Homo sapiens: one gene and its partner. Changing the gene in region 1 together with any one later gene gives a genetic interaction. Each region holds a gene or a part of one and is shown on either strand. Other genes may lie near its edges.

Region 1 (3,560 bases):
GCCTCTGCTGTGGCCCTGGGGTTTTATCAACTGTCCCCTTCCTATCCTCCTCTCCACCCTGTTTTTTGTTTTTTTTTTTTTTAAATAATATTTTGCTATGGGGGAGGGGAATATCAAATGGACAAGATCACTTTTAAATGGTAGTTTTTATAAGATGTTATAAACTTGTATCTTTTTACCATTAAAGTGCAGTGTATGTTCCTTCGTGATATATTTAGGATATTTAAATAAAAGGAAAATGGGGCTTTTCTACATACTATCTCCTCTTTGGGGAAGCTTTTTCATACTGGTTTTAGTTGTTTTCCTTTTTTCTCCCTACATAATCACCCCACAACTTCCAGCACCCTATAAGCCATTTTAAAACCCCTTCTCCACAGAGGAACAAGCAAGTAGGAGCAAAAACAGGGCATCAGTTCTGAGCAAGACGAAAAAGCACACGCAGCAGGACGGAAGGAGGCTAGACACCAACAGATGCAGTGTCTCTGACCTGGGACCCCCCTGCATCCGCAGCACTTGAGAATTCATAGGCCCTTTCCAGACCTGGCTTCCTGGGTCCCAGGGTGCACCCCGGGAGTTTCCTGCACATTCGCGCTTGGGCACCTCTCCCTGCCCTCAGGTGGCAAGAGGAGGATGGACAAGAGCTTTCCCGAGGCCCAGGCTATAAACAGTCTGCTTTGGCCTTGATGAGGTAAAGCAAAGTGACAGCTGTGGTCTGAGGTAAGACTTTATTGTATACTTGGGTGGGGTAGCCCAGATGGATGCAAGGTTGCAGGCATGGGAAGCAGCCCTCTTGGGTGTCACTCTGAAAATGAAGTAGGGTGGTGGCCGCACCTCGCCAGTGAATTAGTCCCCTACCAAGGTCTTACAGACCCACCCTTCCTCTCACCCTCCAGTTCCCACTGTCCTCCAAGGAGAAGAGCCTTGGGTAAGTGTCCCTCCCTCCTTCAGAGAGTGGGACTGTCTGCCTCTTGAAAGCGAGGATTGATGGTGGTCGTGATGGCACTTTTGTAGAGAGGATTACTGTCCTGGAGAAAGATGTTGCAGATTATAAGCAAAAATCCCAGGATTCCTCGTCCCCTTTCTAGACCTAAGAGGCCAGCCTTGAGCCGAATCCTAGGAGCTGATGGAAGTTAGCAGAGGGGTTGGTTACATGTGCCAGGGGCTGGGGGAACCCAGTGGGAGGAATCAGGGCTGGTCTTGTGGTGGGGGAACAGCTAAAAAGGGGCCTAACCAGGAAGTCTCCTCACCTGCTTCCAGTTGAGTTGTTGCTGCTCCTTCTCAAAGCGACTGTATTCCCGGCGGTCATAGATTTCCACCGAGAGCCGGTAAGCCAGGACCAGCCCCAGCCCCACTGCCACGATGCCCCCTACGCAGCCCAGCACAATGGCCTGCGTGTGGTCTGCTCCCTCTGTGAACAAGAAACCAGACACACTTGTGGGAGCTGGAGCATAGGGACAGATCATCAGTTGCTCACAGTGTGTCCAGCCTGTCCAACCCTGTCTGTCACTGAAAGCAAAGGGAACCCAGGGAGGTCCAAGGTTATCCTCACCGCCCAGGGCCTTAGCCTCGTCCACTTGCTCAATTGCCTCTGCCTTTGTCCTGGATTCACAGTTCTGCTTCAGCCCCCAGCCTGTTTCCCATTATCTTCACTCTGCATCCCCAGAGTTGAGACCCTGCCCATCAAACTTCCAGGGTTTGTGGCATCCCTGCCCACTTACTTTCTTGGGGTCTCACTCTGAGCACGACCGTGCCTCTGGCGTCATCCTCCACCAAGAAGAAGAACAGCTGGTTGTCCAGGGTCCGCTCTTTGCACCAGCCATCATCCAAGATAGGGGCCAAGGCCAGGGTCACATTGGTATGGGCACAAGCTGTACTGCAGTTGGTGGCCAGTGGGCCAGTCCTGAAGGCCCCACACTCTGCACAGTCCCTGTGTAGTAGATGCCAATAGGTTACCAGCTGGGCAGTTGTCACCCAATGCCCCTTGCCCAACTACAAGCAGGACGGAGAGTAGGCAGATGGGAGTAGCTCAACAAGCCCCACTGTGCCCCTGCTCCCAAGATGCAAGACCTGAGGCCTCACCGGTGTCTCTCGCATGGTGTCTTGCAGCCTGGGCATTGGTCGCATAGAGCACCATAGTAGCCGTCCAAGCACTGGCAGCGGTTGCATTTGCAGCGTCCATGCCCACTGCAGAGCCCTCCCTCGGGACTGATGCAACTGTCCATGTCCCCACTGCATTCGCATGCTCTGCCCGTGCGGTTGGCATGACAGTGACATACTCCACATTGGCAGCGACCAAAGCCTGGGGTAGAGCCATGCAGAGGGTGACAACCATACTCCACACACACAGTTGGCCATCATGTGGCACGACAAGCCCACGCATCCAATCTTTTTGAAGTATGCCAACCACACCCTCTAACCCATACACCGGAATCTTTTGATATTTGCCTTCCATGCCAGGAGATTCCCAGAGCCTAAGTGCCTTGGGAAGGCCTCTCAGACCCCGCCCTTCTCCCCAAGGCTCCAGGTACCTCCGCAGAGGATGCCCTCATGTCGCTCACAGCTGGCATCGTCACACTCGCACAGATGCCCAGAGCTCTGTCCACTGCAGCTGCAGCGTCCACATTGACAGTGACCCTTTCCACTGCACAGGGGCCCTGTGCCATTGGGAGCCCGGCACCCAGATTCCAGGTCTGGGGAGGACAGCTCTGCCACAGAGCACTCACAGAGCCGACCTAGGCGGCCAGGGGCACAGCTGGAAGGGGAAGGCAAAGGAGAGAAGTAGGTCAGAGGGTTTGATCACCCCTGACTTGTCTCTCCCAGGAACCTCTAAACCCAAGTTCTCAAAAGAGTTGGAGACAGACAAACAGCTGAAAGGATGTTAAGTATAGTGAAACACTGAGGGGTGAGAGAGTGGAGGGAGCCCCAGTCAGGGGGAGGGCCTGGACATACATGGGAAGCTTCAAGGGATGAAACTGAGTGGGGAGTCGGGATGTCGAGGAGACTCCTGTGGGGGGGATGGAAAGCAGCGGAGGAATACGGGCCAGGGTTGGTTGGTTGTTGGGAGCCAGGTGGTTGAAGGGAAGAGGAGGCCCTCACCTGCATACACCACATTGTAGGTGTCCCTGGCCATCACTGCAGTGGGGAGCCTGGGGCTGGGTGTCACTGCAATTACAGTCACACAGCGTGTGCAACTCCACAATCAGCTCCTCTGAGAAGCCAAGGGCCCGGAGCCTCAGGAGATGGGGCTCTGGGAGGCAGTGGGTGGCTTGGAGAGAAACCCAGAAAGTCACCTGAGAAGAGGCAGGAATCAGGCCATGGTTATACACATGCACACACACATACCCCAAACTCACCAATCATCCAGAACCTCACCCCTTAGTAAATGAAGGGATGGGGTCATGTTAACACCCAACTCCTAGAAACATGCCTGAGGAAGCCACTCAGACTGCTCCAGGAAGGATGGATGGAGGACTACCTCAGGCTCTCATGTCACTCCCTGTACCTGCCACCCATCTTTTCCTGCCTGCTTAATTTCCCACTCCCACCTCCCCCTGCCCGCC
Region 2 (3,430 bases), on another chromosome or scaffold:
TGCTGTCACCTGGCTCCCCCTGCTGGGTGCTGGGTCTCCATTTCTCCCTCCACCCACCCTCAGCAGCATCTGCTTCCCATGCCCTCACCATCACCTCACTGCCCCCAGGCCTTCTGCCCTTTGTGGGTGTTGAGCTCACCGCCCACCCACAGGCACTCATGGGAAGAGGCTTTCCTTCTGGGATGGGGGCGGCTGGTAGACACCTTTGCTTTCTCTAGCCCTCCTGGGCTGGGCTTGGGCACAAATCCCCAGGCAGGCTTTGGAGTTGTTTCCATGGTGATGGGGCCAGATGTATAGTATTCAGTATATATTTTGTAAATAAAATGTTTTGTGGCTAGGGGTTTTGATTTCATCAAGAGGCTTAAAATGACCTTCCCCGGAGGTGATTCCAGTGCTATTTCCCCTCCCTTCCTGCAGCCTGAAGGATGGGGGCCAGAACACAAGTGTCACCCATCCTACCTGCCCCAGGCTTTAGGGGCACACACCACAGGAGACTCCAGTCCAGAAAAGGATATTTTTTTTATTCAAGTAACTGCAAATAGGAAACCAGAGAGGGAGCCCCAGGCTGGGACAAATCATGGCTACCCCTCCCCAACAGAACAGGGGGAGGAGGTGGCCCCTACACCCTTTATGGTCGATTTGGGCCCCCTTGCTCACTCTGCTGCAGCATCCTAGGGGCAGGGCCCCACCTTCCCTGGGACTGGGGTAGTCGGTCACCCAGCCTGCCATGCCCCAGCCCCTCTTCCCCACAAAGAGTATCTTGGGGGAGGGGATCGTGGGCAGAACAGGAGGCAATGAGGATGAACATTTGGCGCTGGTAGCAGCAGCAATGACGGATGTCGAAGAATGGAACATTGAACAAAAAACAACACAACTGTCCAGAGGTAGTTTGTGAACAGAGGAAAAATGGAACCAGAACCTTGGGGGGCAGGGAGGAGCAGGAGGGGGGTTGGGAGCGGGCAGGGTGAGCTCCTTGTTATTGGTGCCCCATCTGAGGAGGGGGAAATGGCTGAGTGGCGGAAGCAAAGTAGGGTTAGGGGAGCAGCCCCAGCCCACCTCAGGTGGCGGCCACAGGGCTCTTGGGCCTCACCTGGACAATAAGTGACTGCATCTCCATCACCACAATATGTACTCAGATCCCAGGCGGAGGGCAAGGGGGCTGTGGCCACAGTGAAGAGGGAGTAGGGGACTCACCCCTCCTGCCTTCCTGTAACCGAAGGGGGCTGTCCAACCTAGTACGGGGACTAGGGAAGTTGGGGAAGGATGAAAAGTGAGCCCCACGTGGTGACAAAGACAGTTTGGCTGGGGGAATCCTGGGGGCCAGCACCCCCCTCCATTGGCCACACCTGCTGCTGCCAGGGCAGTGGAGTAGGGCGTGCCAGGATGAGATGGGGCTTGGGCCCCTTTTAAGGCCAGGGGAACCCTCCCAGGCCCCACTATGGGAAGCCAGAGGGAACAGTGAAGGAGCAGAGAGGGCGCCCCCAAACCAAAAGCCCAGAGAGCAATGTCCCCACCACCAAGGGAGTGGGGACGCAGCAGGTGCAGGGTGCGGCTAAGTGGGATGTTAGCCTTGTCCAGGAGGGCATGTGTGTATGCGTGGGTGGGCGGGGGGAGCTGGGAACTGAGGCCAGGGGAAAACTGCTCCCCACTCAGCCCATGGGAGCCCTGCAGCGGCTGGTGTGCTGTGTAGTGTGGTGGTGAGGGCACAGGTGGAAGATGGGGGTGGCGGCCAGAGGCGGTGGTGATGGTGGGCCTGGGGAAGGGGTGGGGGCGGTGGGAGCGGAGCAAAGCTGTCCAGTCCCAGAAGGAAGCTGCTCCTCCAGTGAGGAGCAGGCGGCACGCATGGGTCACTGCTCCTCCTCCGAGGACTCCTGCGAGATGCCCTCCTCTTCCTCCTTCTCCTGTGAGGTGGGCAGTTGTTGGTGTGAGCTCTGGCCCGGTCCCCCTCTTCCACCCCCAGAGGCTGGCCCCACCCGCTCCCTGCACTCCCTGGCTCTCCTGAAGAGGGATGAGTCAGGGCTGAGTGTGTGGGTGACTCAGCAACCTCCACGGCCCGGCTTCATTCATAAAAAGAATTTAAAAGGAGGAAAAAACCCCACACACATGCTGCTCTCACCCAGAGCCAGGAGCCAAGCCCCCTTGGCCCCCAGGCCCAGGGAGGGCAGGAGGGCAGAGCTCAGGGCAGCAATGAGCTTCAGGATGTGACTGACTCCCTAGGGGAGAAGAGGAGGTGGGGGAAGAGGTGGCTGGGGGAGGAAATGGGAAGGGGTGGCTGGAAGGTGCAAGAGCCCGCTGGTGGGTGCAGGGGAACCAGGTCCTTGGCCCACAGGGGCAGATGCTGTGCTGTGGTGCCCTGGCCCTCCGGGGTGGCCGAGGGCTGACCCTAGGCCGGGGTGGGGAGGAAGGGGAAGTGTGTGCCGCCGGGGCTCACTCACTGGGCGGGAATGTCGGGACACCACACGGGGCTACAGCCCCCGTGCCAGGCACAAACTCCAAAACAACTTGTTTCCTGTTACTCACTCTTGGGGCCTGGCCAGCAGCACCCCCTAACCCCCCCACCCCAGCAGTGGCTCAGCTCAAGGAATGACAGCTTCAGGGATTTGAGGGGGCAGGCTGGGGGTAGGAGAGGGCCAGGAGCTGGAAGGCTGGGGTGACCCTAACTGCAGTGGCCCCCTAGAGGCAGCTTCTTGACTCAGCCCACCGAGCCTTTCCACCAGCTGTTTGGGGACCCAGAATTGGATGGTGCCCTCCAGTGCAGTGTGGTGGGTCACATCAGAACTCCAGCACCGACCCCTCCCAGGGCCCAGCTCCTTCGCTGTTTCTCTTCTGCAGAGGCTCATAGGAAGGACAAACCTTCCCCCTATGGCTTCCTTTCCTCATCTCTAATTGAGGGGGACACAGGCTAGATGACTTCCAAGATCTCCCCTAGAAGTTCTGAGTATTCTAGGAGCAGGAGAGGGAGGGACCCCCACACACAACTAGGGCAGGGCAGGGCAGGGGGATGTGGTCTGATTTATACCTGGGACCCCTCACTTCTCATGGGCACAGCCCAGGCCAGGTACCTTCCCCTCTCTGGACTTCTGTAAAATCTGATGTCCCAGCAGGTCAAGGAGAGCCTTTCCATAGGGGGTGCATAGCATCAGGTACTGTGTACTCAACACCCTCAACTCAAAAGAGCCCAGGAGGCAAGCAGCAGTCTGCTTCTTCACCTACCAGTTTTTTGGGTCTGCCCCTTGGTTTCCTTCCTGGAGTTGTGGTGGTTTTCTAGAGGGTTAGAGAAAATATCTCCTAAGTCCAAAATGCTCATCAGTGCTCACCCGATGCCCAATAGTGATGGGGGGCAGACCTACCTGCCTGTTCAGGGTGACCCAACACTCTCACCCAACAGGCCCACCCAAGTCCAGCTGGCAATGACTGGCCAGCCACATTT

The links.
Region 2: changes in ITGB7 (region 1) and HMGA1 together harm fitness more than expected from each alone (negative genetic interaction), as found in Homo sapiens cells (one large-scale study listed by BioGRID).

The regions. Positions count from the first base shown.
Region 1 is NC_000012.12:53,190,612-53,194,171, forward strand, and holds the end of ITGB7 (integrin beta-7 isoform a precursor), read right to left. Parts: exon of another isoform or gene 3,291-3,560; coding exon 3,097-3,290; exon of another isoform or gene 2,753-3,096; coding exon 2,529-2,752; exon of another isoform or gene 2,300-2,528; coding exon 2,080-2,299; exon of another isoform or gene 1,928-2,079; coding exon 1,719-1,927; exon of another isoform or gene 1,409-1,718; coding exon 1,248-1,408; exon of another isoform or gene 1,121-1,247; coding exon of another isoform or gene 1,088-1,120; exon of another isoform or gene 1,026-1,087; coding exon 945-1,025; 3' UTR 712-944; downstream 1-711. UniProt on the Homo sapiens protein: Integrin ITGA4/ITGB7 (alpha-4/beta-7) (Peyer patches-specific homing receptor LPAM-1) is an adhesion molecule that mediates lymphocyte migration and homing to gut-associated lymphoid tissue (GALT).
Region 2 is NC_000006.12:34,243,302-34,246,731, reverse strand, and holds the end of HMGA1 (high mobility group protein HMG-I/HMG-Y), read right to left. Parts: intron 3,265-3,430; coding exon 3,214-3,264; intron 1,902-3,213; coding exon 1,848-1,901; 3' UTR 501-1,847; downstream 1-500. UniProt on the Homo sapiens protein: HMG-I/Y bind preferentially to the minor groove of A+T rich regions in double-stranded DNA. It is suggested that these proteins could function in nucleosome phasing and in the 3'-end processing of mRNA transcripts.